2 separate regions of the Homo sapiens genome follow, and region 1 is linked to region 2. The links come from fine-mapping of genetic effects on gene expression. A gene starts in region 2. The other region holds a variant in brackets. All regions are shown on one strand. Distances are between the middles of the regions.

The links. PIP is the estimated chance that this variant, and not a neighbour inherited with it, causes the effect.
Region 1: its variant is fine-mapped to the expression of CD207 in left ventricle (GTEx, PIP 0.98).

Annotation. Positions count from the first base shown.
Region 1 is chr2:70,876,724-70,893,302 of GRCh38, reverse strand. It overlaps LINC01143 (long intergenic non-protein coding RNA 1143), which reads right to left and starts at 5,432. Exons shown (of 4, transcript NR_126384.1): 1 at 5,123-5,432; 2 at 4,955-5,017; 3 at 3,715-3,827; 4 at 3,319-3,482. RefSeq lists an enhancer at 4,925-5,575. The variant G/A (reference allele first, on the strand shown) is at 8,584.
Region 2 is chr2:70,831,424-70,846,479 of GRCh38, reverse strand. It overlaps CD207 (CD207 molecule), which reads left to right and starts at 10,664. Exons shown (of 6, transcript NM_015717.5): 1 at 10,664-10,776; 2 at 10,873-10,989; 3 at 12,460-12,834; 4 at 13,429-13,580; 5 at 14,661-14,779. The coding sequence starts at 10,704. RefSeq lists an enhancer at 14,768-15,056.

The DNA of each region.
Region 1 (16,579 bases), 46 kb before region 2:
GCAGAGCCTGGATCTACCTTGACTGGGTGGTGGCCTTAAGTTCTAGAACTATGTGTGTATGTTGTGTTGATTTTGTGTTTTGGTAATAGCTTTATTGAGATGTAATTCACATATCATAAAATTCACCCATTTAAAGTGTATAATTCAATGGTTTTTCGTGTATTTACAGATATGTGCAACCATCACTACTGTCAATTTTAGAACATTTTCATCACCTCAAAAAGAAATCTCGATCCCCCAGCCTTCTATCTCCTCAAACCCCCAGCCCTAAGCAACCACTAATCTACTCTCTGTCTCTATGGATTTCCCTATCCTGGATACTTCATATAAATGGAATCATATCATCTGTGGTTTTCGTGCCTAGCTTCTTTTATTAGCATAATGTTTCAAATTTCATCCATGTTGTAGCGTGTATCAGTACTTCATTTCTTTTTCTGACTGAAGAATATTTCATTGTATGATTAGCTCACTTTTTGTCTATCCATTCATTATTGATGGAAATTTGGATTATTTCTACCTTTTGTGTGAGCACGTCTGTGACTCCCAAACTGGTTTTCAGCCTTCAGGTCAGCGCTTGACCAGAAGAGTGGGGGAGTTTTCTTGGGAACAGCTAGATGAGCCCGGCAAGGCTTGGGAAATGCCACTGGATGGCTATGGGTCCCCAGCTAATCAGTCACCTTCTGGAAGCATTCTTTCTGGTTTTGTCCAATGGGGAGGAGCCACCTGGACTGCAGCCTTATAGGAATACAGTCTCTGGAGCAATGATTCAGAGTCGTGGCTCTTGGCTAGGTTGGGTTCAGATCCTGGTTCTACCACTTAACTAGTTGCTAACAGGCTGCTGAACCTCTCTAGGCTTCAGTGTTCTCATCCATTAAGTGGGAGTAATATTAGTATCAACCTCTGGAAATGTTAAGAGGAGTAAATTAATATATTCAGAGCACTTAACCCAGTGCACTTTACCTGGCACTCTGTGGGTGCTGAAGGAAAGATTTAAGCTTGTATCATTTAAGGCTTAGAGCCAAGAACACACTGTAGCCCTAATTGCTCCCTCTCCTCCTCCTGCCAGGGTGAATGAAGAAATGAGGAGGTTAGCCATGCCCAAGGGGAGCAGCGGGAGACTGTCCAGCATGCGGGTTGTGAACCCAGATTCCAGGGCCCTCCACACTGACTACCTTAGTGCCTGTCCCAGGTGGTGGGTGCAGGAGAAATGCAACTGGCTGCCAAGGCTGAGGACAGCAATTCTCCTCCCAGGTTGGCTCAACCCTCTTTTTCCCAAAAGTGGCCATTGGGCTCAGAGGACAGTGTGCTGTGAGGCCCAGGCTGGAGCCCTGTCTTCATCCAACTCGGCCCTGGCACAGACCCTGGGGAGCATTCTGAGTTTATCATTCCAGTCTCATACCCAAAGCCAGATCCTGCATTTTTCCCAACCTGAGAACCCCAGCCTATTCATCAGCCTTTCCTGAGGCCCAGGGAAGAACAATTCAGGGAAGGAACAGCAACTCGAGCCCAAGAAAGATCTGAGTCCTCTGGCAAAGAGGCAAACGGAGATTGCAAAGGCTGTGTGTGAGTGTGTGTGTGTGTGTGTGTTTGTGTGTCGCGGGGGAGACACGGGAGGGGGCAGGCATCATTTCCCAGGCATTTCCCACGTGATGCTCCTGGAAAGCTCAGGGTGCAGTTTGGATCACTGGGACTGCTCTCTGGACTGTCTTTGGGGAGGGGCCTGGAGGTCAGCATGGGCGGCCTTTATATCCTTTGATACCTTTTGAATTTGTGGTGTGTTAAAAGTCAAACAAATCCAGTAAAACACAAATTTAAATGTCATTGTTAGAATGGATTTGAAGCATTTCGTTTCTGTGTTTCCATCAAGGGCAGTGGCTCACCTTTCCTTCCTGACTGTGCCTCAGAGAGGTTGCCTACAGTGACTTACCACTTAGGCAGGTCTTCTTTTCGTCTTTGCCACTAGTCACTACAAAGTAGGCAGGTCTCCTTTTCATCTTTTTGTCCTTTTTGTCTTTGCCATGCCTTCTGTGCAAGCCAGAACACTGTACATTCAAGGTCACTAACCACCTGTCTCCCATGTCCCCAGTGCTAGGAAACCCTCAGGTTTAGGGCCCTGTTGCCTCAAGCAATAATCATTTGCGATCAGTGATCTGTGTCACCTGCAAGCGGGTTCCAGACTGACCTTGGCAATCAGGAGCCAGGCATCTCTGGCACCTCTTCCTAGGTCACCCTCTCTCTGGTTTCCCCTTCACCATGTGAGCCAGAAGCTCTGCTCTCGGGCTCAGGTGGGTCCCAACAAGCATCCAAGGCCTGTCTGCTGAGTGGCCTATTGTCCATGGTGAATAGGAGGGGTTACCTAGGGACTGAGTCTCTAGGAGCCACTGGCCTGGGTGGGACCAGGCTAGAGGAATTCTCTATCTCTTGACCCTGGGAGAGGACTTTCAAAATGCAAGGGTGAGGAGCTGAATGACAGCCTGTTTTGGGTGACTGTTGGGCCTGTGTGGGAAGGCACTGGCCACTATCCAAGGCCCTCTAGAGGTGGCAGCCTCGGGGGCCCGTCCTCTTACCCCAAGATGCTGCTAGGAATTTATATCTACTGGAAACAGTTCTCCAGGAGCTGTTGCACATTCTTTGAAATATTTGTCATCTAACAAATGTTTATTGAGTTCCTAAAATATGCCAGGCACTAGGGGACAGCTGTGAGCCAAACAGACTCGAATAGTCGGTCATGTAGCCTATATCACTGGAGATGGCCAACCTTCCAGGGGCAGTCAGACTGATACAGGGCCAAGGCTGGAACCCTGGAGTTTGATCTTTGGGGGTGGGAGAAGCATGCTACCTGGTTGTTTACATGTTGCACATACCAGGGGATAAGTCTAAGTATCCGATTTTTTTTTTTCCTGGCTAGAAAACAGCCTCTGAAAATAACTCCCCTTAAATAAATGCTTTTTACTAAGCCTCCATGGTCCTGTAATAAACACCAAGAAGGGGAGTACAGTGCTTTGTGTTGGGTTCAGTTTGCTTACAAAACAAAACAAAACAACCCCAAACAAATGTGCAGACCCTTGCCTTGGAGGTGTTTGTGTGTGTGTGTGACCTGTGTTTGTAAATGTGTGTAGTGTGAACTAATTTCATCAACTTTTAAAATAATGACTTTTACTATTTTTTTTTTAAGAGACAAGGTCTCACTCTGTCGCCCATGCTGGTTGCAGTGACACGATCACGGCTCACTACAACCTTCTACTCCTAAGCACAAGCTATCCTCCTGCCTCAACCTCCTGAGTAGCTAGGACAACAGGCAGGCACCACCACACTCGCCTAATTTTTTATTTTTTATTTTTTTGCAGAGACGAGGGTCTCGTTATGTTGCCCAGGCTGATCTGGAACTCCTGGCCGCTAGGGCTTCTCCCTCCTTGGTCTCCTAAACTGTTGGGATTACAGGTGTGAGCCACCCCGCTCTGCCTTTTCTTTTTTTTCTTTTTCTTTTAAAAGGAAAACATGCATCTAAGAAAAAATTCTAAGCAGCACAAAAGATTAAGAAATGACTACCAGGTGTCTCTCCAGAATCTCAGCCCCATCCCTAGAAGCTCAAGCTCTCGTCCCATCTCACTCTCCGGTTTTAAAAATGAGATCAAGTCGCCCTGTCCGCGGTTCTTCCTGCCTGCCCGCCTCGCCGGCCTGGCTCTGGCTCCTAGCGGCGGGTCTCCTGCTTACCTTTCCTGCGCCCTCACTGCGCGCCAGCCACTTGGGAGAGTGCTTGCTTCCCCACAGCGTCGCCAGTTTGGTGTGTTACCGAAGATTTTGATCTTTGTGGGTCCGATGGGTTTCTTAAAGAAAGACATGAATTATGCTAGGGAAACAAGAGGAAGCAAGAGAAGGGCAGAATGTTTGAGGCAAGAGACGCTTTGCTTGGGTCCTGGGGGTGCGAGCGCGGGCTGGGGACAATGCGGGGGCAGTAGTTGCCTGAGCTCCAGATCACACCTGCACTCAGAGGCGGGAAGCCCTTATCCTGGTCACAGCCGCGCGAGCGGAGAGAGGCGGCGGGGCGGCGGGGTCAGCGGGAATTAGCGCGCCAGGGCCGGGGCGAGGGATTGCCGCGGGGCGAGAGTTCGGGACGGGATTAGCGGGTTCAAAAGCAGGTCAGGGAGAGCTAAGCAAGGCGACGAGGTCCGCGCGAGGTCAAGGTCCCCGAGAGAGGCGGGTTCCGGACTGGGCTCGGGAAAGGCAGCGGGCATTGCGATCGCGGGGAGGCTGCACCGGGAAGCCCAAGTTCCGAGCGCGTGGAGGGCTCGGCCGGCATTCGAGTGTAGGCCGCGCCCTCTGACGGCCGCGGGGCGAGGACACCTCTGACCATGGGCCTTGGTCGGGAGGAATGAGCGAGGGGCGAGGTGAACCCGGGTACGAGTGCGCGGCAACTTCAATGAATGTATCCGAGGTCGCCAGGCGCGCGCGCCGCAGATCTGCGGAACCGGGTTTATCTATTCGTCTTTTACATCGTAATCCCGTTTCCTTTTATTTTTACAACACTTTTTTTTTTCTGGCAAGGGAAGTCATCTCTTAGGCAAACAAACAGTCAAAAATAAAAATAAAAAACCGCACTGAACAATGCAAAGAAATGTTCTTGGCAGGAGCCAGTCTCTCCCGCGTCTCCTGGCACCTGTGGCCTCCCTGCGGAACAGATCCCAGAGTGTGACACCTTCTGTGTAAAAATAATCGCAACCCACACTCCACCCTTCTGTGCGTCCTGCACACGCACCAAGGGAGAGCTGGAAGGACAGCCGAGGGATACACGCTCTTCCACGAAATAAATATGTTTTAGGGGTGTGTGTGTGTGTGTGTGTGTGTGTGTCTGAGCCTCTGACTTGAAGTTATTGGAGAAGGTATTCACACATTATTTGGGTTCTCTCTTAAAGAGCTCTTGGGTTCTCTCTTAAAGAGCTCATGGGAAACACACCTGGCGGTACTGTGGGATGCGAAGTGGGCGCCTCACTCGGAAACCCCGGCCTTGGTGGATGATCTAAGAAAAAAAAAAACCCAGATGGACGGATACATGGGCACTTTCGGGATCGCTGGGTGCAGGCCGCCGTCGCCATTTCCACCGTCCACTACTCCAGGCACCTGCCTCTCGTCCCCAGCCTTGGCCTTTAGGTCTCCCTTCCCGCAGATGTCGCCTGGAGAAATGGAGCCCGGATGCTCAGGCGCGCGGCGTGGTATCCCCAAACCCGGGACCTCTGTTTTGGGTCTGGTTGATTTTCCACGGAGAACCGAAGAGTCCGCTCCTCAGGGGCGAAGTTTGCAAGTCCTTGGGGTAGATGGTGACGGGGGCTGGGGCGCGAGTGTGAAAGGACAGGAAAGGAAGGAGAGGGGAGAGAGAAGCAGGCTGAGAAGTGGGGGAAGCCGCGGAAGCCGGCAGCGCGGGAGCGGAGACGCGGAAGCCGGGTAGGGGGAGGGGCGGACTGGGACCAGGGCGAGGGGCGGGGCCGGAAACGGGCGGACTCGCGCCCTAGACAAAGCGCGGCCCGGTGGGCGAGGGCCAGCTGCTCTCCCCGCAAGGTCTCCCGAAACCGGGCTTTCGCTCGGCCAGCCGGCTGGTTCTGGTGGGGACGCGCAGGTTGCTAGTGGGGAAGCCAGTCCAAAGGGATCGATCGCCGGAGAAACCCCACGCATTCACCCAAACAGCCTTCGGCTCAGGGTGGCCGGAGCAGAGCCCAAGGGTCAAGGGCGAGGGGCCCCTTCCCTGCCCTTTTGTCCAGGTGGACTCTGTGGCCGTCGTTTTGTTCTGAGACCCCCTGGGAATGCCACTGCCGGGCCACAACCCCGACTGGCAGGTCAAGGTGCAGGAAGTCCCGCCATTAGAAATGCATTCCCCAGGCTGATATTACCTTCTTTTTCTCAGTTTTACAGTCATATACACAATGGTAAGACTCCTCTTGACGCCACTTCCAACCTCTGTGCACTGTTCGCATGGCTAGAACAGCAATAATAGAATTGAAAGCAGGAAAAATATCCCCGTGCTACCCCTAAAAGACTCAGTCTTTTTTTTTTTTTTTTTTAAATGTGCATCTTTATTTTGCATAATGTTAGTCCTGGTGAACATGTAGTTTTGTATTCAGTCTTTTCTACTTGAGGCCACACTTCAGTATTTGCTATGTGCTATGATCCTCATAAGTATACTTTTCAATGGCCGAGTAATGCTCTATTATGTTACTGTGTAATTTACTTAACCGTTCAATTACTTGATATTCTTCCGTGTCCAGTTTTTCTGTATGAAAATAATACACAACCTAAAATCTTCGTGTATATAGTTTTCTCCTTTGGGGAGGATTATTTCTTCAAGATTCTTACTGTTTCAGCAGGAAGGGGACATTTTCACTACTCTTAATAAATTGCCCAACCGCTTCCCAAAGCAATTTACGCAGGCATTTATTTTCGGGTCATTATGGGCGTGGTGCTACCGGTCAGGAATGTCCAGACTAAATCAGTCCCACCCTTAGAGCACTTTCCCTGCACCCCAAGCCTCTGGGAGGCAGGCCCTTGGAGCAAAAATTACCGCGCAAAGTGGGCAGCACGGTAGGGAGAGGAAAGAAGAGGCAATGGGAGCCGGGGAGTGGGTGAGGGGTGTGGGGGTTCTTTCCCCAGCCTGGAGAAAGTCAGGTAAGGCTTCACCTGACTTAGCAAGGAAGTGAAGGTGACTCCCGAGTACAGCCCCAGGCAGGGGTTTGCCAAGTAGAAATGGAGAGAGAAACATAGAAACCTTTGTCTGCGCAGGCTGCAAAGTTTGTTGGGTTTGGAGAGGTACGTAGTGGTTATACGCTGCGAGGGATCATAAATGTGGGTGGAAAAGTCCAGGAAAGTGGGATTCTCGCCATCCAGTCCAAGGAAATTGGAAACAGACAGCCTGGTTATTGTGCATTTGCATTATTTTAAACGGTTGCTGTATTAATAGAGGCATGATTACATAATCATTATTGTTGTAAATTATGTTTTACTGAAAACTAGTTTACATTTCCTTATTTAAAAATACTAATTGTCTTGCTTTCTGACTCTTGAGGCTGAAGAAAGAAATAGGAATTGTCCTTTAAGAAACAATTTCTTCTCTAAACCACAGTAATATGTATTTTAAATCATAAAAGCAATACATATATTATTTGATTTTTTAATAAGAATATATTCACATAAGATTAATTTAAAGATTATAAGTGAACACAAACTCATAAAATAATCAGACAAGTGTCTACAAGTCCTTCCTTAATCCTCTGTGCAGAAGTAGCATGGCTTATAGTTACTACGTTGCATATGTGAACTATTTAGATGTTTTTTGCAACAATGATTTATATTCCCTGCCACTCTGCAAATTGCCTTAAAAAAATAGGTCATAGTTTTCTTACATGTTAATGGAAGTAGCTCTATCTCATTCCTAGCAGCTGTCTTGGTAACATTATATAGATGTTCCATCATTTTTTTGTCTGTATTAAAAAATTACATATTTGTTTATGTGGTTGTATTTTATATAATAAAAGTTCAAACAGTGCCAAAAGATAAAGATAAAACATGACACCTCCCTTCATGCTTGTCCCTACTTCTACCCCATCTCATTCCTCAGAAGTGTGAAGTGAGAAGTTTGGGGATTGTTTCGGCAGCTCCCCTCCCTAGTCTGTTTTAAAAATAGTGTATTTAGGCCGGGCACGGTGGCTCATGCCTGTAATCCCAGCACTTTGGGAGGCCGAGGTGGGCCGAGGTGGGCCGATCACCTGAGGTCAGGAGATCACCAGCCTGGCCAACATGGTGAAACCCCGTTTCTACTAAAAATACAAAAATTAGCTGGGCGTGGTGGCTAGCGCCTGTAATCCCAGCTACTCCGGAGGCTGAGGCTGGAGAATCGCTTGAACCCGGGAGGCGGACGTTGCAGTGAGCCGAGATCGCACCATTGCGCTCCAGCTTGGGCGAAAAGAGTGAAGCTCCGTTTAAAAAAAAAATTGTGTGTTTAATCTTTTTAGACTGAGCACTCACGCACTCACATTCTCCTCCCTGAATTTCACAACCCCCTCCTCCAAACCACTGGGTTGTATTTGCTGTTAGTCTTTGTTGTCATATATTCTCACAAAATAAGCTCTTTTTTTTGGTGTGCGTTTTTATTGTATGTACATGGTATTGAGTTTTATATTTCATTTTAAATATTATTTAAAATTGTTAAAAACAATTTCAAATTTATGGGAAAGTTGCAAGAATATTACAAAACTCTAGTATTGTCTTTAAGCTGCAATTGCATTATCATTCTCTTTTAAAATTATTTTTATGGAAGCATTTGAGGATAAGTTGCAGACACCATGCCGTTTTACTATTAAATACTTTCGCGTGCATTTCCTGAGGGCCATCACCTACATGCCACATTGCAGTGATTAAAATTAGGAATCTTAACATTGATATATAATCTTCAGATCTTATTCAAATTTCATCAATTGTCCCAATAATATCCTTTATAATATTATTATTTTTTTCTGGTCCCAGATTTAATTCAATATTACCCATTGCATTTAGTTTTTAAGTTCTTGTTAGCCTCCTTTACCTGGAAACAGTTTATCA[G/A]CTTTTTTTGTGTATGTTTGTAACAGATATTTTTGAAGAATATGGACCAGTTAGTTAGATTGTATATATTGGAGTTCCTTGTTTTATTTTGAACAGTCTGAAACTTACAGAGAAATTGTCAAGAGCATTACAAAGAAACCCCCTCCTCCACTTACCTGTTTGAACTCAAGTTGCTGACATAATGCTTTATTTTGTATTTCTAACAAACAAGGACATTCTCCCTTGAAATCGCAATGCAATCATCAAAATTAGAAAATTAATGCTATCACAATTGACTCCTCAGACCCCCTTGTCAATGGTTCTGCAAATGTCCTTTATTATCAAAAGGATGCAGTAAAGATGTATTGCAGTCAGTTGTCACGTCTCTTTAGTCTCCTTCAATCTGTGACAGTTAGTTCCAGTCTTTGACTTTCACGGCCAGTTATTATGTAGAAAGCCCCTCGGTGTGGATTTATCTCATGTTTCCTCACAATTCAATTCAGACTATGCATCTTTGGCAGGAATATCACAGAAGTGATATTGAATTCTTCTCATTGTGTCCTATCAGATGGTACATGATTTTGATATATCCTGTACTGGTGATGTTAACTTTGATCATTTGAGTGAGAATTAAGTTTCTCCCTGTAAGGTTATTTTTCCCTTTGCATTTAATAAGTATTTTGCAGGGAGGAACTTTTAGACTATCTATATATCCTGCCCCTCATCAAGCTCTTTGTGCATTGTTTAGATCAATATCAACAAATGGATTCCTAATGTATTCAATAGGCTATATTTTGTTACTATATTATTTATTTAATTTGTGAATTGTCCCAAATGTCCTTTTTTGGGGGTAATAGCTTTATTGAGATATCATTCATGTATCATACACTTCACCTATTTAAAATACACTGTGTAATGTTTTTTAATATGTATATTCACAGAGTTGTACAACCACTCCTATAATCAATTTTAGAACATTTTCATCATCCCCAAAAGAAATCCCATTCCTGTTAGCTTTCACCTCCCAATTCTCCCATCCCTGCCAGCCCTAGGTAACTATCTACATTGTGTCTCTATAGATTTGCCTATTCTGAACATATCATATAAATGGAATTGTTCAATATATGGTCTTTTGTGACTGACTTCTTTCCCTTACCATAATGTTTTCAAGGTTCATCCGTATTGTAGCATAAATCAGTACTTCATTTTTAATGGATGAATAATTCCATTGTATGGACATACCACAGTTTATCTATTCGTCAGTTGATGGACATTTGGGTTGTTTCCACTGTTTAGCTATTATGAATACATCCTGCTGTGAATGTTCTTGGAGAAGTTTTCGGTGGCCATATATTTTCATATCTCTTGGGTACATACCTAGGAGTGGAATTGCTAGGTCAAACAACTAATTCTATCTTTAAATTTTTGAGGACCTACCGCACTGTCTTCCAAAGTGGCTGTCCCATTTTACATTTTCCCCTAGCAATGAATAAGAATTCCAATTGTTCCACATCCTTGGCAACACTTGTTATTGTCTGTTTTTTCAATTATAGCCATCCTAGTGGATGTGACTTTGTATTTCAATGTGGTTCTTATTTGCATTTCCCTGATGACTAATGATGTTGTCTATCTTTTCATGTGTTTCTTGGCCATTTGTATATCTTCTGTAAAGAAATATCTATTTATGTCCTTTGCTCTTTTTCACATTGGGTTATTTGTTTTTATATTATTGAGTTTTATTATTTATTATTTATATTTTTAAGGTAGAGTCCTCTAGTTGCACAGGTTGGAGTGCAGTGGTGCAATCATAGCTCTCTGCAGCCTCGAAATCCTGGGCTCAAGTGATCCTCTCACCTCAGCCTCCTGAGGAGCCAGGACTACTGGTGTGCACCACCATGCCCAGTTAATTTCCCATTTTTTGTAGAGACAGAGTCCTCCTATATTGCCCAGGCTGGAAGAGCTTTTTCTAGTTTTCTTCTTTTCTGTATTTATGCTACCTTCTCGAACAGTGAGAAATCTGTCTCCTATTTTCCTCAGTATGTATATTTGATCAGTTTCCTGGTGTGTAACGAGTTTCCTGTGGCTGCATTGCCTCTCTGTGCCCCACCCCCACTGAGGAGACTCTGCTCACCCCACTGTGGCTGAGGTATCTGATGCTGACACTGTGTGGATGTCTCCCTGCTTGGATCCCAACACACCCATGCGGATTCACCATGGCAGACACTCTCCCTTATGGGGATGCTTACCTTGCTTGGCCCTACCTAATGGCTTTTGGATGACATTTTCAGGAAGGGAAGAGCAACTATATATATATATAAAAAATTGTATTTTTTTTGCCACATCAATTGACTCTTTTTTTTATGAGAGATTTCTCTGTAGCATGAGATGCTGTTTGACAGCATTTTACCCACGATAGAACTTCTTTCAAAATTGGAATCAGTTTTCTCAAACTCTGCTGCTGCTTTATCAACTAAGTGTATGTAATATTCTAAACCCTTTGTTGCCATTGCAAATAATGTTCACAACATCTTCACTGGAAGTAGATTCCATCTCAAGAAACCACTTTCTTTGCTCAACCATAAGAAGCAACTCCTCATTCATTCAAGTTTTATCATGAGATTGCAGCAATTCAGTCGCATCTTCAGGCTTCACTTCTTTTTTCTTTTTTATACTTTAAGTTCTAGGTACATATGCATAACATGCAGGTTTGATACATAGGTATACATGTACCATGTTGGTTTGCTGCACCCATCAACTCATCATTTACATTAGGTATTTCTTCTAATGCTATCCCTTCCCCAACCCCCCACCCCCTGAGAGGCCCCGGTGTGTGATGTTCCCCACCCTGTGTCCAAGTGATCTCGTTGTTCAATTCCCACCTATGAGTGAGAAAATGCAGTGTTTGGTTTTCTGTCCTTGTGATAGTTTGCTGAGAATGATGGTTTCCAGCTTCATCCATGTCCCTGCAAAGGACATGAACTCATCCTTTTTTTATGGCTGCATAGTATTCTGTGGTGTATATGTGCCACATTTTCTTAATCCAGTCTATCATTGATGGACATTTGGGTTGGTTCCAAGTCTTTGCTGTTGAATAGTGTTGCAATAAACATACGTGTGCATGTGTCTTTATAGCAGCATGATTTATAATCCTTTGGGTATATACTCAGTAATGGGATCGCTGGGTCAAATGGTAACTCTAGTTCTAGATCCTTGAGGAATTGCCACACTGTCTTCCACAATGGTTGAACTAATTTACACTCCCACCAACAGTATAAAAGCATTCCTATTTCTCCACATCCTCTCCAGCATCTGTTGTTTCCTGACTTTTTAATGATTGCCATTCTAACTGGCATGAGATGGTATCTCATTGTGGTTTTGATTTGCATTTCTCTAATGACCAGTGATGACGAGCATTTTTTCATGTGTCTGTTGGTTGCATAGATGTCTTCTTTTGAGAAGTGTCTGTTCATGTCCTTTGCCCACTTTTTGATGGGATTGTTTGTTTTTTTCTTGTAAATTTGTTTGAGTTCTTTGTAGATTCTGGATATTAGCCCTTTGTCAGATGGGTAGATTGCAAAAATTTTCTCCCATTCTGTAGGTTGGCTGTTCACTCTGATGGTAGTTTCTTTTGCTGTGCAGAAGCTCTTTAGTTTAATCAGATCCCATTTGTCTATTTTGGCTTTTGTTGCCATTGCTTTTGGTGTTTTAGTCATGAAGTCCTTGCCCATGCCTATGTCCTGAATGGTATTGCCTAGGTTTTCTTCTAGGGTGTTTATGATTTTAAGTCTAACATTTAAGTCTTTACTCCATCTTGAGTTAATTTTTGTGTAAGGTGTAAGGAAGGGATCCAGTTTCAGCTTTCTACATATGGCTAACCTGTTTTCCCAGCACCATTTATTAAATAGGGAATCCTTTCCCCATTTCTTGTTTTTGTCAAAGATCAAATAGTTGTAGATGTGTGGTGTTATTTCTAAGGGCTCTGTTCTGTTCCATTGGTCTATATGTCTGTTTTGGTACCAGTACCGTGCTGTTTTGGTTACTGTAGGCTTGTAGTGCAGTTTAAAGTCAGGTAGCATGATGCCTCCAGCTTTGTTCTTTTTGCTTAGGATTGTCTTGTCAATGCAGGCTCTTTTTTGGTTCCATAAGAACTTTAAAGCAGTTTTTTCCAATTCCCTGAAGAAAGTCATTTGTAGCTTCATGGGGATGGCATTGAATCTATGAATTACTTTGGGTAGTATGGCCATTTTCATGATATTGATTCTTCCTATCCATTAGCATGGAATATTCTTTCATTTGTTTGTGTCCTCTTTTATTTCATTGAGCTGTGGTTTGTAGTTCTCCTTGAAGAGGTCCTTCACATCCCTTGTAAGTTGGATTCCTAGGAATTTTATTCTCTTTGCAGCAATTGTGAATGGGAGTTCACTCATGATTTGGCTCTCTGTTTGTCTGTTAATGGTGTAGAGGAATGCCTGTGGTTTTTGCACATTGATTTTGTATCCTGAGACTTTGGTGAAGTTGTTTATCAGCTTAAGGAGATTTTGGGCTGAGATGATGGAGTTTTCTAAATATACAATCATGTCATCTGCAAACAGGGACAATTTGACTTCCTCTTCTCCTAATTGAATACCCTTTATTTCTTTCTCTTGCCTAATTGCCCTGGCCAGAACTTCCAACACTATGTTGAATAGGGGTGGTGAGAGAGGGCATCCTTGTCTTGTGCCTGTTTTCAAAGGGAATGCTTCCAGTTTTTGCCCATTCAGTATGATATTGGCTGTGAGTTTGTCATAAATAGCTCTTATTATTTTGAGATATGTTCCATCAACATCTAGTTTATTGAGAGTTTTTAGCATGAAGCACTGTTGAATTTTGTCAAAGGCCTTTCTGCATCTATTGAGATAATCAAGTGGTTTTTGTCATTGGTTCTGTTTATGTGACGGATTATGTTCATTAATTTGCATACGTTGAACCAGCCTTGCTACATTTATTGATTTGCATATGTTGAACCAGCCTTGCATCCCAGGGACGAAGCTGACTTGATCATGGTGGATAAGCTTTTTGATGTGCTGCTGGATTCGGTTTGCCAGTATTTTCTTGAGGATTTTCGCATTGATGTTCATCAGGGATATTGGTCTAAAATTCTCTTTTTTTGTTGTGTCTCTGCCAGGCTTTGGTATCAGGATGATGTTGGCCTCATAAAATGAGTTAGGGAGGATTCCCTCTTTCTCTATTGATTGGAATAATTTCAGAAGGAATGGTACCAGCTCCTCTTTGTACCACTGTTAGAATTCGGCTGTGAATCCATCTGGTCCTGGACTATTTTGGGGTGGTGGGCTATTAATTATTGCCTCAGTTTCAGAGCCTGTTATTGGTCTGTTCAGAGATTCAACTTCTTCCTGGTTTAGTCTTGGGAGGGTGTATGTGTGCAGGAATTTATCCATTTCTTCTAGATTTCCTAGTTTATTTGCACAGAGGTGTTTATAGTATTCTCTGATGGTAGTTTGTATTTCTGTGGGATTGGTGGTGATATCCCCTTTATCATTTTTTACTGCATCTATTTGATTCTTCTCTCTTTTCTTGTTAGTCTTGCTAGTGGTCTATCAATTTTGTTGATCTTTTCAAGAAACCAGCTCCTGGATTTATTGATTTTCTTAAGGGTTTTTTGTCTCTCTATCTCTTTCAGTTCTGCTCTGATCTTAGTTATTTCTTGCCTTCTGCTAGCTTTTGAATTTGTTTGCTCTTGCTTCTCTAGTTCTTTTAGTTGTGTTGCTAGGGTGTTGATTTTTGAACTTTCCTGCTTTCTCTTGTGGGCATTTAGTGCTATAAATTTCCCTCTACACACTGCTTTAAATGTGTCCCAGAGATTCTGGTACGTTGTGTCATTGTTCTCATTGGTTTCAAAGAACATCTTTATTTCTGCTTTCATTTCGTTATTTATGCATTAGTCATTCTGCAACAAGTTGTTCAGTTTCCAAGTAGTTGTGCAGTTTTGAGTGAGTTTCTGAATCCTGAGTTCTAATTTGATTGCACTGTGGTCTGAGAAACAGTTTGTTGTGATTTCTGTTCTTTTACGTTTGCTGATGAGTGTTTTACTTCCAATTATGTGGTCAATTTTAGAATAAGTGTGATGTGGTGCTGAGAAAAATGTATATTCTGTTGATTTGGGGTGGAGAGCTCTGTAGATGTCTATTAGGTCTGCCTGGTGCAGAGCTGAGTTCAGGTCCTGGATATCCTTGTTAACCTTCTGTGTCACTGATCTGTCTAATATTGACAGTTGGGTGTTAAAGTCTCCTGTTATTATTGTGTGGGAGTCTAAGTCTCTTTGTAGGTCTCTAAGGACTTGCTTTATGAATCTGGGTGCTCCTGTATTGGCTGCATATATATTTAGGATAGTTAACTCTTCCAGTTGAATTGATCCCTTTACCATTATGTAATGACCTTCTTTGTCTCTTTTGATCTCTGTTGGTTTAAAATCTGTTTTATCAGAGACTAGGATTGCAACCCCTGCTTTTTTTTTTTTTTCTTTTGCTTTACATTTGCTTGGTGGATCTTCCCCCATCCCTTTATTTTGAGCCTATGTATGTCTCTGCATGTGAGCTGGGTCTCTTGAATACAGCACACTGATGGGTCTTGACTCTTTGTCCAATTTGCCAGTCTGTGTCCTTTAACTGGGGCATTTAGCCCATTTACTTTTAAGGTCAATATTGTTATGTGTGAATTTGATCCTGTCTTTATGATGTTAGCTGGTTATTTTGCCTGTTAGTTGATTCAGTTTCTTCCTAGCATTGATGGTCTTTACAATTTGGCATGTTGTTGCAGTGGCTGGTACCAGTTGTTCCTTTCCATGCTTAGTGCTTCCTTCAGGAGCTCTCGTAAGGCAGGTCTGGTGGTGACAAAATCTCTCAGCATTTGCTTGTCTGTAAAGGATTTTATTTCTCCTTCACTTATGAAGCTTAGTTTGGCTGGATATGAAATTCTGGTTGAAAATTCTTTTCTTTAATAATGTTGAATATTGGCCCCCACTCTCTTCTGGCTTGTAAGGTTTTTGCTGAGAGATCTGCTGTTAGTCTGATGGGCTTCCCTTTCTGGGTAACTCGACCTTCCTCTCTGGCTGCCCTTAACACTTTTTCCTTCATTTCAACCTTGGTGAATCTGACAATTATGTGTCTTGGGGTTGCTCTTCTTGAGGAGTATCTTTTTGGTGTTCTGTGTATTTCCTGAATTTGAATGTTGGTCTGCCTTGCTAAGTTGGGGATGTTCTCCTGGATAATATCCTGAAGAGTGTTTTCCAACTTGGTTCCATTCTCCTCATCACTTTCAGGTACACCAATCAAATGTAGATTTGGTCTTTTCACATAGACCCATATTTCTTGGAGGCTTTGTTTGTTTCTTTTTACCTTTTTACTCTAAACTTCTCTTCTTGCTTTATTTAATTAATTTGATCTTCAATCACTGATATCCTTTCTTCCACTTGATTGAATCAGCTATTGAAACTTGTGCATGCATCACAAAGTTCTTGTGCCATGGTTTTCAGCTCCATCAGGCTATTATGGTCTTCTCTACACTGTTTATTCTAGTTAGCCATTCGTCTAATCTTTTTTCAAGGTTTTTAGCTTCCTTGCAATGGGTTCGAACATCCTCCTTTATCTCGGAGAAGTTTGTTATTACAGACCTTCTGAAGCCTACTTCTGTCAACTTGTCAAAGTCATTCTCCATCCAGCTTTGCCTCTGTTGCTGGCAAGGAACTGCAATTCTTTAGAGGAGAAGAGGCACTCTGATTTTTAGAATTTTCAGCTTTTCTGCTCTGGTTTCTCCCCATCTTTGTTGTTTTATCTACCTTTGGTCTTTGATGTTGGTGACCTAGAGATGGGGTTTTGGTGTAGATGACCTTTTTGTTGATGTTGATGCTATTCCTTTCTGTTTGTTAGTTTTCCTTCTAGCAGTCAGGTCCCTCAGCTGCAGGTCTGTTGGAGTTTGCTGGAGTTCCACTGCAGACCCTGTTTGCCTGGGTATCACCAGC
Region 2 (15,056 bases):
CCTGAGACTTTTCTGAAGTTGCTTATCAGCTTAAGAAGATTTTGTGCTGAGACAATGGGGTTTTCTAAATATACAATCATGTCATCTGCAAACAGGGACAATTTGACTTCCTCTTTTCCTAATTGAATACCCTTTATTTCTTTCTCTTGCCTGATTGCCCTGGCCAGAACTTCCAACACTATGTTGAATAGGAGTGGTGAGAGAGGGCATCCTTGTCTTGTGCCTGCTTTCAAAGGGAATGCTTCCAGTTTTTGCCCATTCAGTATGATATTGGCTGTGGGTTTGTCATAAATAGCGCTTATTATTTTGAGATACATTCCATCAACACCTAGTTTATTGACAGTTTTTAGCATGAAGCGCTGTTGAATTTTGTCAAAGGCCTTTTCTGCATCTATTGAGATAATAACGTGGTTTTTGTCATTGGTTCTGTTTATGTGATGGATTACGTTTATTGATTTGAGTATGTTGAACCAGCCTTGCATCCTAGGGATGAAGCCGACTTGATCATGGTGGATAAGCTTTTTGATGTGCTGCTGGATTCGGTTTGCCAGTATTTTATTGAGGATTTTCGCATCGATGTTCATAAGGGATATTGGTCTAAAATTCTCTTTTTTTGTTGTGTCTCTGCCAGGCTTTGGTATCAGGATGATGTTGGCCTCATAAAATGAGTTAGGGAGGATTCCCTCTTTTTCTGTTGATTGGAATAGTTTCAGAAGGAATGGTACCAGCTCCTCTTTGCACCTCTGGTAGAATTCGGCTGTGAATCCATCTGGTCCTGGACTTTTTTTGTTTGGTAGGCCATTAATTATTGCCTCAATTTCAGAGCCTGTCTATTCAGGGATTCACTTCTTCCTGGTTTAGTCTTGGGAGGGTGTATGTGTCCAGAAATTTATCCATTTCTTCTAGATTTTCTAGTTTATTTGCATAGAGGTGTTTATAGTATTCTCTGATGGTAGTTTGTATTCCTGTGGGATCGGTGGTGATATCCCCTTTATCATTTTTTATTGCATCTATTTGATTCATCTCTCTTTTCTTCTTTATTAGTCTTGCTAGTGGTCTATCAATTTTGTTGATCTTTTCAAAAAACCAGCTTCTGGATTCATTCATTTTTTGAAGGGTTTCTTGTGTCTCTATCTCTTTTAGTTCTGCTCTGATCTTAGTTATTTCTTGCCTTCTGCTAGCTTTTGAATATGTTTGCTCTTGCTTTTCTAGTTCTTTTAATTGTGATGTTAGGGTGTCGATTTTTGATCTTTTCTGCTTTCTCTTGTGGGCATTTAGTGCTATAAATTTCCCCCTACATACTGCTTTAAATGTGTTCCAGAGATTCTGGTATGTTGTGTCTTTGTTCTCATTAGTTTCAAAGAACATCTTTATTTTTGCCTTCATTTTGTTATTTGCCCAGTAGTCATTCAGGAGCAAGTTGTTCAGTTTCCATGTAGTCGTGTGGTTTTGAGTGAGTTTCTTAATCCTGATTTCTAATTTGATTGCACTGTAGTCTGAGAGCCAGTTTGTTGTGATTTCTGTTCTTTTACATTTGCTGAGGAGTGCTTTACTTCCAATTATGTGGTCAATTTTAGAATAAGTGCGATGTGGTGCTGAGAAGAATGTATATTCTGTCGATTTGGGGTGGAGAGTTCTGTAGCTATCTATTAGGTCTGCTTGGTGCAAAGCCAAGTTCAAGTCCTGGATATCCTTGTTAACCTTCTGTCTTGTTGATCTGTCTAATATTGACAGTGAGGTGTTAAAGTCTCCTATTATTACTGTGTGGGAGTCTAAGTTTCTTTGTAGGTCTCTAAGGACTTGCTTTATGAATCTGGGTGCTGCTGTATTGGCTGCATATATATTTAGGATAGTTAGCTCTTCTTGTTGAATTGATTCCTTTACCATTATGTAATGGCCTTCTTTGTCTCTTTTGATCTTTGTTGGTTTAGAGTCTGTTTTATCAGAGATTTATTTATCAGGATTGCAACTCTTGCTTTTTTTTGCTTTCCATTTGCTTGGTAGATCTTCCTCCATCCCTTTACTTTGAGCCTATGTGTGTCTCTGCACGTGAGATGGGTATCCTGAATACAGCACACTGATGGGTCTTGACTCTTTATCCAATTTGCCAGTCTTTGTCTTTTAATTGGGACATTTAGCCCATTTACATTTAAGGTTAATAATTGTTATGTGTGAATTTGATCCTGTCATTATGATGTTAGCTGGTTATTTTGCCCATTAATTGATGCAGTTTCTTCATAGCATCAATGGTCTTTACAATTTGGCATGTTTTTGCAGTGGCTGGTACCAGTTGTTCCTCTCCATGTTTAGTGCTTCCTTCAGGAGCTCTTGTAAGGCAGGCCTGGTGGTGACAAAATCTCTCAGCATTTGCTTGTCTGTAAAGGATTTTATTTCTCCTTCACTTATGAAGCTTAGTTTGGCTGGATATGAAATTCTGGGTTAAAAATTCTTTTCTTTAAGAATGTTGAATATTGGCCCCCACTCTCTTCTGGCTTGTAGGGTTTCTGCTGAGAGATCCGCTGTTAGTCTGATGGGCTTCCCTTTCTCGGTAACTCGACTTTTCTCTCTGGCTGGCCTTAACATTTTTTCCTTCATTTAAACTTTGGTGAATCTGACAATTATGTGTCTTGGCGTTGCTCTTCTTGAGGAGTATCTTTGTGGTGTTCTCTGTATTTCCTGAATTTGAATGTTGGTCTGCCTTGCTAGGTTGGGGAAGTTCTCCTGGATAATATCCTGAAGAGTGTTTTCCAACTTGGTTCCATTCTCCCCATCACTTTCAGGTACACCAATCAAACGTAGATTTGGTCTTTTCACATAGTCCCATATTTCTTGTAGGCTTTGTTTGTTTCTTTTTACTCTTTTTTTCTCTAATCTTGTCTTCTCGCTTTATTTCATTAATTTGATCTTCAATCACGGATATCCTTTCTTCCACTTGATCGAATCAGCTATTGAAGTTTGTGCATGTGTTACGAAGTTCTCGTGCCATGGTTTTCAGCTCCATCAGGTCATTTAAGGTCTTCTCTACACTGTTTATTCTAGTTAGCCATTCGTCTAACCTTTTTTCAAGGTTTCTAGCTTCCTTGCAATGGGTTAGCTCATGCTCCTTTAACTCAGAGAAGTTTGTTATTATCGACCTTCTGAAGCCTACTTCTGTCAACTCGTCAAAGTCATTTTCCACCCAGTTTTGTTCTGTTGCTGGCGAGGAGCTGCGATCCTTTGGAGGAGAAGAGGTGCTCTGTTCTTTAGAATTTTCAGCTTTTCTGCTCTGGTTTCTCCCCATCTTCGTGGTTTTATCTACCTTTGGTCTTTGATGTTGGCTTGGTTTTGGTGTGGATGTCCTTTTTGTTGATGTTGATGTTGATGCTATTCCTTTCTGTTTGTTAGTTTTCCTCCTAACAGTCAGTGCAGGTCTGCTGGAGTTTGCTGGAGGTCCACTCCAGACCCTGTTTGTCTGGGTATCACCAGCAGAGGCTGCAGAACAGCAAATATTGCTGCCTAATCCTTCCTCTGAAAGCTTCATCCCAGAGGGTCACCCGTCTATATGAGGTGTCTGTCTGCCCCTACTGGGAGGTGTCTCCCAGTTAGGCTACACGGGGGTCAGGGACTCACTTGAGGAGGCAGTCTGTCTGTTCTCAGAGCTCAAGCGCTGTGCTGGGAGAACCACTGCTCTCTTCAGAGCTGTTAGATAGGGATGTTTAAGTCTGCGGAAGTTGTCTGCTGCCTTTTGTTTAGCTATGCCCTGCCCACAGAGGTGGAGCCTGTAGAGGCAGTAGGTCTTGCTGAGCTGTGGTGGGCTGTGCCCAGTTTGAGCTTCCTGACCATTTTGTTTACCTACTCAAGCCTCAGCAATGGTGTATGCCCCTCCCCCAGCCAGGCTGCAGCCTCGCAGGTCGATCTCAGACTGCTGTGCTAGCAGTGAGCAAGGCTCCGTGGGTGTGGGGCCCTCTGAGCCAGGCACAGGAGAGAACCTCCTGGTCTGCTGGTTGCTAAGACCGTAGGAAAAGCAGTATTTGGGCAGGAGTGTACCGATTTTCCAGGTACCGTCTGTCATGGCTTCCCTTGGCTAGGAAAGGGAAATCCCCCAACCCCTGTGCTTCCTGGGTGAAGTGACACTCCACCCTGCTTTGGCTCGCCCTCTGTGGGCTGCACCCACTGTCCAACCAGTCCCAATGAGATGAACCAGGTACCTCAGTTGAAAATGCGGAAATCACCCTTCTTCTATGTCGATCACGCTGGGAGCTGCAGACCGGAGCTGTTCCTATTTGGCCATCTTGGAATGGACCCATCCATGTTATTATATAAATAAATAGCTCTTAAACTTGGAAACATTTTGACCATTGTTTCTTTGAATATGTTTTCTGTCCCTCTCCACCCGCTTTGAGGACTTCAAATCCACGTATATTAAATTGCATGAAGTTGTCTCAGACTTCCTGATGTTCTGTTATTTTTTCTCTCTGAGCTTCATTTTGCATAGTTTCTATTGGCATATCTTCAACTTCATTGATCTTTTCTTCTACAATTTATAACCTGCCATTAATCCCTTTCAGTGTATTTTTCATACCAGGCATTGTAGTTTTTTCAGTCATTATAAGTTCAATTTGTATCTATTAAATGTTTCATGTCTCTATTTAACTGTTTGAACACAAGAAACACAGTTATAATGTCTATTGTAATGTCCTTGTCTGGAAATTCTAACATCTGTATCATTTCTGGGTTCGTTTCAGTAGATTGGTTTTTATCCTTATTACGGGTTATATTTTTCTGCTAGTCTGTTCTATGAGCTCTGTTATGGATTGAATTGTGTTTTCTGTTCATTTACATGTTGAATCCCTAATCCTCAATATGACTGTGTCTGGAGATAGGGCCTTTATTATAAAGCTATACTAATTAATATTGTAGAGTTTTGTTATATCAATAGAAAGACAAATGGAACACAACAGAAAGTCCAGAAACAGACCTTTAAAGATATGAAACAAACTCAAACATATTATGAAACACATGATGAAGATGGTACTTCATAATCAGAGATAAAATTATGCATGGTTTTAAAAAATGGTATCTGGACAGCAGGCTACCCATTTAGAAATGGATAAGTTAGATTCCTTTCTAAAATCATGGAATACTTGAACAAAACCATAAGAGATAAGAAAAAAATGGAAAATCATGAAATCCAAATGTATCAAATATAAAAAGTGAAAATGAAGTTACAATAGAGCATGAAATAAAAATAAAAGTTATTATGCAGATGTAAGTTTGATTTTAAGGTTATCCATAATATATTATTACACAAAAAAAACTTACACACTATAGGGTATAAGTCTAGTTTTGTAAAAAAAAATGTATATGCTTACATAACGCATTGGACAGGACTCTTTGGTTGCAAGAAACAGAAACTCATCCAATTAAATTCAAATGAAAATAAGAGATTTTCATTTTTGTGTTCACATAACCAAACCAAGAAACACAGTGTCTGTGGGGAATGGAACTCAAGTTCAACAGGATCCAGCACTCAAAGGCACCAGGACTCACTTTCTGTCTCTTCATTTTTTGTTACAGCTTCTGTCTCTGTGCTGGTCTTATTCTACTGGGGTCTTCCACATGACAGAGGAACTGGTTACTAGCTGCCCTATAGTCATATCTTTAGGTCCCTCAGTTTAGGGAGAGAGGAGAGCTACCTTCCTACCCAAACCCTGGGCACCCATCATTGCAAGTTGTCACTCCTACACCTGCGGGTATCTAGGATCAGCAGCCCCATTTGAATCACAAACTGAAAAAATTTCCCAATGGAGGGGGATTTTTGGTATCAGAAATGCAGGAGAGGTTGGGCGCAGTGGCTCACGCCTGTAATCCCAGCACTTTGGGAGGCCAAGGCAGGTGGATCACAAGGTCAGGAGATTGAGACCATCCTGGTTAACACGGTGAAACCCCGTCTCTACTAAAAATACAAAAAATTAGCCGGATGTGGTGGCAGACGCCTGTAGTCCCAGCTACTCAGGAGGGTGAGGCAGGAGAATTGCTTGAACCCTGGAGGCGGAGGTTGTAGTGAGCCGAGATCACGCCACTGCACTCCGGCCTGGGCAACAGAGTGAGACTCTATCTCAAACAAAAGAAAACAAAACAAAAAAACAAAAAAGAAAGGCAGGAGAGGTGGGGAAGGATGCTAGGGAAAATAAGCAGGAATTGTGTTGTGAATATGTATATAATATATGCATAGTTATGATTAGACACAGCTATGGCTATAGATATAGATGTGTATACATATACACGTGGGTGGTTAGGAAGACTGAACTATGGGTACAACATTTGTTTTCTCTACGATGGTTTTGTTGTGTTTTGTTTTGTTTTGAAACAGAGTCTCACTCTATCACCCAGGCTGGAGTGCGGTGGCACAATCTCAGCTCACTGCAATCTCCACCTTCCAGGTTCAAGTGATTCTCCCGCCTCAGCCGCCCGAGTAGCTGGGACTACAGGCACCCACCACCATGCCTGGCTGATTTTTGTATTTTTAGTAGAGACGAGTTTCACTTATGTTGGGCAGGCTGGTCTCAACCTCCTGACCCCAGGTGATCCACCCACCTTGGCCTCCCAAAGTGCTGGGATTACAGACATGAGCCACTGCACCCAGCCTATGGTGGGTTTTTTTCTTACTTGGATTTTTTTCTATAATTAATTATCATTAATTATATAATAAATAAAAGATTTAAAAAGAAACTATGCACATTTTTTTTCCCAAAAGCCTTTCATTACTTTCCTGACATAGATTTGCCCTTCCCACTGAGGCTATAGGCATGAGTTCTTTGACTTATGACGTAGTCTGGGGCAGCCTCCTCTGCCGGGTACACAGCAGCTCTTCCATGTGGCTAGGTTGCCAGCCTATTTACATATCACACTATTTATGATGGCACTGGGTGAAATACCCTGATCAGTAGGGTCTGGCTTATTGTCACTGTTCCAAAGAGACCTGTCCTCATATAATGTCATAAAAGAGGAACCCGTTATCAGGGTCCAAGGAGACCTGGGAAGGCCCCTATAGTGTCGTCAGTCATTTTTAGTCTCGGGAGAGCCTTCCCTTCTCCCCAGCATTAAGGATGTCATATTTTTTCAACAATAGGAAAACCATTCCTGAGGGCAGGGTCTGTGGTTGTCTTTTTCCTTGCTGTGTCCTGGTACCTAGTGCACAGCAGGACTAGAGGAGTGAATGGTGCCACCTATGCTCCTTGGTTTCTCTGCCCTATCCCCTGTGCCCAGGGCGCATGTCCGGAGGGTGGCATGGAATCCCTTGATTTTTTGGAGGCTGTGGGCCAAATCCCGCATCACATCACAGGAGTCCCTATGTAAGCCAGGTGTGACCAGCTGTAATCTCCTCTCATTTCAGAGTCATTCTCCCCTCCTCCCTCTCTTCTCCTTCCCTGTCCCCACTCCGCAATTTGGTGTTCACTCTACTTTCCTCCATGACTTGACTGAGGGACTTGGGTGACTCCTCCCTGGAGATGACTCTTGGCACTGCTGGAGCATTTCATACAACCCAGGTCTCTGTTCCAGTCTTGTTGATTAAACCCATGGTTCTCCTCCAAGCATAAGGCTGGGCCCAACCATAGTCTCAACCAGAGAAAGGGAAAAAGTGACCAAGCTGTTTTCTTCCTCCATCCTTATCCAGAGAAAATATTAGAACCCCAGGAACACAGGAAGAGGAGAAACTAAAAAAATGAGCACAGACTTCCCGTTCTCATCACAGCGGTGATTTTTTTGGTCACTAGGTCTGGCCAGAGTTCCTCTTCTGTTTGGAAGAGCAGGGCATTGTCTGAGTGCCCGGGAGAACTGCCCACCTTCCTGACTGGAAAGTGTGGCCAAGGCACCTGCCTGCTTCTCTGTCTTTTCTCCTGCCAGGCCAGGTGCCAGATAGAGCATCCAGAGGTTTGCACAGGAGAGGTGCTCAGGAAAGACCTGTAGATGAGCATGATAATAGGAAGATGGCTTCTGACTCCCTCCCTCTCCACAAAGTGGGAAATGAAACTTCCTATGGTTTGGGACTTTTACATCCACCTCCTCTGAAACCCCAGAAGGCCCACAGCCCAGGATTCCATGCCTTTGCTCAGCTTCCTCATGCTGGAACAGCCTTTCGCCTAGCGGTAGCTATTCTACCTACCTCAGCCTGCATTTCCATCACTTGGAGTAAATGCTCCCTGCTCCAGCCCCTTCCTATGCCATGGGCCCAGCCGCTAAGGCTTCCTCATCCTTTCCTGGGACCAATGAGAGGGCATCTGGGGGGCTCTATAAAGTATAACTCATACCACAAACCAGCAGAGAAAACCCAACTTCCTGACCGAGCGGAAATGGACAAGACACTTCCCAGGCACACTGTGTGGCGGCTTCTTTCCCGCAAATGCCTCAGGAGGAGACATGGACCCCTGCAAGGCCCCTTCTACCAGGGTCTTGAGTAATTTGGATTCTTCTCTATCCCCAGGCCCAGAAATAGGACAGGCTATGGATGAAGGGCCAGGAGCCAGGAGCAGAAGGGCAGAGATGATTCTGGAGTTAGGCTGGGTCCCAAGCATGAGAGTCCAGAAGTGGAACATTCTAATCCTGTCTAAGCCCTGATGGAACCAAGGCTCTGCAACCACACGAGCCACCTGAAGAGAGTAGGAATCTTCATGGACACCCAGAGGCAGGCAGTGATGTGGAGCCAGGCCCTCATATTCGGGACTATCAAATGTTAAAATTTAGAGCAGACAGCAGGCCTGGAAGTTACAGACAGGCTGGGTAGGGAAGCGATGGGACAGAACAAATGAGACACCATCTTTGCTACCCAGTTTCCTTCCCAGAGCTTCCCAGTGTGGGGTCCTCTCTGGGTTCCCTCATCCAGTCCGAGAAGCCACTCCAGCCTGAGGCCCGGTTAGCTGGAGAGAGAGCATCAAGGGCCTGTAACTACAATGAGCTGCACATAGGCATGGGCTGAGCGTGCAGCCACTATCCTCCCAAGTACCAAAGGTGGCAGTAGCCCCTGAAAGCATAGGTAGATATTTCCTTGGCCCTGTTAACTTAACCTCTAATCCTGGTCCCTGATACAGGCTGTCATCCAGCTCCACTGGCTCAGCCTCAGCAGGCCCAGGACAGCTTTCTTTTCCTGCGGCCAGAGCTTTTGTTCATTCCTGGGTAAGGAGTAAATCACACTTCCCCTTATGCTTTTGCATTGAAGATGAATGAGAACTTCTGGAGACAGTGGAAAAAAGCAGCAGCTTCTAGAAGGCAGATCCCAGGCCCCAGACTGTGTAAATGTCTGAGTGGCATGATCAGCTATCAAGTCTCCAAGTCACTTACCATTCACACATCCATCCATGCATCCTCTATCCATCCATTCATCCATTCACCCATCCTCCAATTATCTGGACCAATTTCCTTCTTTTTTCTTTCCTTCCCTCCCTCTTTCCTCTCCTCTTTCCTATATTCCAAGAAATATTTGTCTAGAGTCTGCCATGTGCCAAATTTCTCAGATTTGGCAGACTTCTTCAAAGCATGAGAAGCCGCCCAGGAGAAAATTTAGTCCTTCATTGAGCCCAAATCAGCTCTTCTGTGCCCTGAGCTTCTTGCACATATGGAACTCTCTATTTAGGACTACAAAGAAGGAGAGAGGAGGTGCGGACAGAGAGAGAGGAGAGAGAAACAGAACGATTCCTAGTCTGAGGTTGCTGAGCGCCCCTACTTTTTTTGAAAATCTCACATGGTGCAGGAAGCAGGGAGGAGAACCCAAGTCTTAGGTTTACACTTTGAATCTCCAAGTTGCATATTATAAAGGGATATTGTATCAGCCAAGATGCATTAATAACAGGAAGCAGGATATTCTATTGCAATGGTTGCCTATTTGGTATCTCTGCTTCCAGGCTTCTCCCCACCAGTCTGCTCCTCACCAGGATCAGAGTGATGTTTCTACAGTGTCCCTGTCCTTGTCTCTCTCCTGCCTGAAGTCCTTAATTGGCCCCATGTCACCCACAAGCCAGAGGTCCAGCTCCTTGACATGATCAGAAGGATCTTCATCATCAGACCCCAGGTGCCTCTTCAACCCCGTGTGCATCCCCTTCCTGTTGGAATGTATATTTTACATTCCAGCAATATTGCAACTATTTACAATTTGCCAAGCACTCCATGCTATCTTATGCTCCATCCTTTGGCATATGCTTATCTTTCTACTGGATTTTTTTTTTTCCCATTACTCCATTTCATATGCTTCTTTGAACTGGGCATATTTGTCTCTTGTGCTCATCACCTTGCAATTTATTTGCTCATGTCTGTCTTTCCTACCAGACTATGAGCTGCTTGGTGCAAGGACTGCGAGTTATTCATCACTGTGGCCCTATGCCTGGTAGAGCATCAGTACCTAGAAGGCACTCAGCCTGTATTTGTGGGGTGAATGGATGGGTGGATGGATGACGAGAGTCTTACAAGAGAAATGGGATAGGTTTGGGACAAGATGGTTAATGTATCCATGTAACAGACCCCCAGAGAAGACAACAAATGGCCTCTTCCTGAAAGCTCAGACTTCTGAGGATGGGAGTAAGCCAGACAAGGTATCTAGTCAGGAATAGGGAAGTTGGGATGATATGGTGACCTGCTGTGGGACTGACTTCCTGTTTCCTCTAGATAAGAGCCCTTGGAGAGACAGGCAGCCAGAAGCACCTGTGCTCCCAGGATAAGGGTGAGCACTCAGGATGACTGTGGAGAAGGAGGCCCCTGATGCGCACTTCACTGTGGACAAACAGAACATCTCCCTCTGGCCCCGAGGCAAGCCACATCGCTGCTGAGAACCTGCTCCGTGTTCTGTGTGCAAACCTGCCCTTTGCTGCTCCTTCAACACACATTTTCTTCTTCTTCCAACAGAGCCTCCTCCCAAGTCCGGTCCATCTCTGGTCCCGGGGAAAACACCCACAGTCCGTGCTGCATTAATCTGCCTGACGCTGGTCCTGGTCGCCTCCGTCCTGCTGCAGGCCGTCCTTTGTAAGTCCTCATGTTTCATCGTCTGGGCTTAGCCCCTCTCTGTGGCCAGCCGGCTCCCTTCAGATCGAGACCACTTCCCTGCTCTCCGGGTTTCTCCTGCCTGTGGCTTTTTCATTTGTCTCCTTCCTCCTCTTTCCATGTGCAGTAACAGGCTGTGCTGCCCCCAGTACGGTGAGCTGATGCTCTTTCCCTCCCAATTTCTGGGAGATTATTGGGATTAGCATTTGCACATTGGTGCTCAAGGATACATTCTTTTGTCCTCAGGAAACATTGATCTAGTTTTACATCCTGTGCTATTTTCTCCCCGTCCACCCCCCACCAATCTGAGCTCTGCTCCTTGGATCTAGAGCCTTGTGGACAGTCCTTGACAGTGCAATGTCTCCTGACCCTGTGAAGGACCGAGCCTCATGTATCATTGGCCCCAGCTCACCAGATGGAGAGCCTGGCCAACGAGCCAACAGATCTCCATGACTCAGTCCCCTCTCCCCAGGACTCGTTGGTGCTGTCTTCATTCTCCTGTCCCTGTGAAGATCACATCTAGGGAGGCTTCCTGCTCATTTGATGTTGCATGGTTTATCTTTCTTCCTTTTCTGGCTCTGTCAGGCTTCATGGCCTTTGCTGCTGGCAGAGCCTTCTTCCTCCTGCCAGGGCTCCAGGAAGCAGAGCAAAGGGACCCAAGAAGCTGTTGGGTTTTTTTTTCTCCCTCTGTGGCCTCGGGACATATTTGGGCTTAGACTTGTAGGCTCTGAGCAGAGTCCCCCTTGCCCCATCCTAGACCCCTGGCCTCTAACATCGCATTTTCCTCAGGGCTCGCCTTTGAGCCTCTTGGTTTATCTTTGATCCTCTCTCTGGTACCCAGGCCTGGGACCTGAGCAGAATGTGAAAGTGGGTGGGGCAAGGGAAGGGGAGAAACAGTTTTGTAATCTCCTCTTCCATGTTCTCTGGAGAAGCCACTTCCAGATTAGTGGCTGGTTCTTCCCATGGTCACAGAGGGGCCCATGGACAGATGTGGGGGAGTGGTGCTGTCCTAGCAGATGGCCACTGCAGGGGTTTCTGAAAACAGAGGGATGGCAACCAAGGGGTGGGGTCTAGGGGGAATCAAGTTCTGGGGACAGTGGTGGGGCTCATGGAGGGCACCCTTTATCAAATGTTCCCTGAACACTCAGAAAATTCAGGAATGGTTTCTAACTCCTGCTTCTGCTTGCCTGTGAAATCTTTTCACAGAGAGCCTGTGTTTTATCAATCTCCCCATTATCTGTATCCACCTGTGTTCCTGGCACATGGTAGGTGCCCATTGCACGTTTGTTGTACGTTAATGAATGATTGGAGGGTTGGGGTGGCCCATTGGACTGTCTTGGTTCTTTGGGAAGCTTCAGCCTATTCCTTCCCTTCCTTTGATCAACCTGACAACACCCCCACTCCTGTCCCTGGGACTCCCCTCAGCTGACCTCCTGACTTTCTCAATCCCAGATCCCCGGTTTATGGGCACCATATCAGATGTAAAGACCAATGTCCAGTTGCTGAAAGGTCGTGTGGACAACATCAGCACCCTGGATTCTGAAATTAAAAAGAATAGTGACGGCATGGAGGCAGCTGGCGTTCAGATCCAGATGGTGAATGAGAGCCTGGGTTATGTGCGTTCTCAGTTCCTGAAGTTAAAAACCAGTGTGGAGAAGGCCAACGCACAGATCCAGATCTTAACAAGAAGTTGGGAAGAAGTCAGTACCTTAAATGCCCAAATCCCAGAGTTAAAAAGTGATTTGGAGAAAGCCAGTGCTTTAAATACAAAGATCCGGGCACTCCAGGGCAGCTTGGAGAATATGAGCAAGTTGCTCAAACGACAAAGTAAGTGACTCAGAAAATTACATTGAAGCTGACCAGTGGCCCATGGGATCTTACCTGTCCCAGACCTGAGGCCATTGGGCTGGTGGGTTGGGGAGGAGAGTGGGGGCAAAAGAGGGGCAGCCATGGGCTAGGAAGTTAAGGAGAGAGGGCTTGAGGTTGGGGAGGACTTAGGGGCTGTTAGGAGAAAAGAGACCAGGGTCCAGCTAGAGCTCCCACACAAAAGTGCAGAATGTAAAAGCATTAGGGGATGTCCACCCTGGCCCACACCTAGTCATTTCCCATCAAGTTCCTTTCTAGAGTCCAGGGGCTCAGCCACTTGTCATGGCCGATGGAGGGTTGCTTCCTCATCATGGGGAAGACACTCTTTGTCCAACCTCTTGCATTATAACCTCTCCAGTCCCAGAGACTCTATTAGTCTCTGTCTGACTTTCAGGATTTGAAAGAGTGTCCCTAATCTCCTATACAAGGACCCAAGGACACCAGCGCACAGCTCCATTTGCTGCTGTCTCTGAGACCTCATTCAAGTGCCCCCACCAAGCCAGCATCCCAAGAAATCAAGAATACCAGCGTTCACTTTTACCTCTTGTTCTCTAGATGATATTCTACAGGTGGTTTCTCAAGGCTGGAAGTACTTCAAGGGGAACTTCTATTACTTTTCTCTCATTCCAAAGACCTGGTATAGTGCCGAGCAGTTCTGTGTGTCCAGGAATTCACACCTGACCTCGGTGACCTCAGAGAGTGAGCAGGTGAGTGCTGTGCCTATGGGCTCTGTGAAGGGGGCGTATGAGCACTGGGCCAGGGAGGATGGGCAAGATTATACTGCGTGAACAAAAATCCCCAAATATTGATGACCTAATGAAGAAGGATTGGTTCTCAGTAGCATGTCGAATAAGGGCCGGCAAGGGGGCTGTGCTCACTGTGGCTACTCAAGGACCCAGGCCCAAGGAGTCTTCATCTTAATATGTCTCCACAATTGCTGGGGCAGGAAAGGGGAACTTGACATATTGTGCAAAGCTTCTGCCCAGATTTAACATACCTCATTTTTGCTTACATTTCACTAGCTTAAGTTATGTTAATTAAGTTAAGTAAGTTATGCAGTACTCCTGGATTGGGAGGATCCTGGATTCCAGTACTCCTGGAACAGGGCAGAGAGGATCTACTTTCCATGTGCCCAGAAAAAAAGAAATATTTGTGAACAGCCTTAATGATTCCACATGACTCAAGAAGTCTCCTGCCTGGTGAGGCAGAAATTGGGCAGGCCCTTTTCATCTGGGAGGTGGGATAGCAGAGCAGGTCAGAGCCTGGGCTCTGGCGTAGTTCTAGAGCCTGAACCTTGCCATCTAACTAGTCCTAGCAGCTTGGGTGGAATACCCAACTTCACTGGGCAAACTTCACTGGCCCTCACTTGATGAAACATGCATGGTGATGGCACCTGCCTCAGAGGAAAGGAGAGAATGCATATGGACGACTCAGCACAGTGCCGTATGTGGATTCAGGGCTCATTTAATTCAGGTATTATCATATGAACCATTCTCTTGCGGTCCGTGCTCTGGAGTTCAGCTGAGGCCTTCCTGTGCTTCAGCACCTGCTTCCTGAGTGGCAGAAAGGCTTGAGTCCTGAGCTTGTTAGCTGCAGAGCAGGGACACATCATAATCTGGAAGATGAAATCTGGGCTCTGGGCAAGGGCAGGAAGAAGCTTGAGAGGCCAGTTTGTGCAGCGCATCTGTGGGTCAGGGCTGTCACTGAGCGCAGGTGAAGAACACCCAGAGACAGATGATCAAGCTCCAAGTGTGGCCGCACCTCTGCTTATCCTGTCTTTCCTACAGGAGTTTCTGTATAAAACAGCGGGGGGACTCATCTACTGGATTGGCCTGACTAAAGCAGGGATGGAAGGGGACTGGTCCTGGGTGGATGACACGCCATTCAACAAGGTCCAAAGTGTGAGGTAAGCCCCTGGAGCCCTCCGTGCCAGCCTGACTTTCCCCGGCCATGGCCAGGGCATGAAGGGAGTGGGGGCGATGTTCCCCATGAGACAGGGTTTCTGATTCTTCCCTGTCTTAGAGTGACAGGAACATTGCAACCAAGATCGAGCACAACCCTGTCACCAACTGGCTGTGGACCTGAGCCCTCCACGCCCTCTGGGGTTTGGCAACAAGGCCTTCTACCTGGCCAGCTTCAGGGATCTTGTCATGAGTCTAGGTCTTCACAGTGTGGGTTTGTGT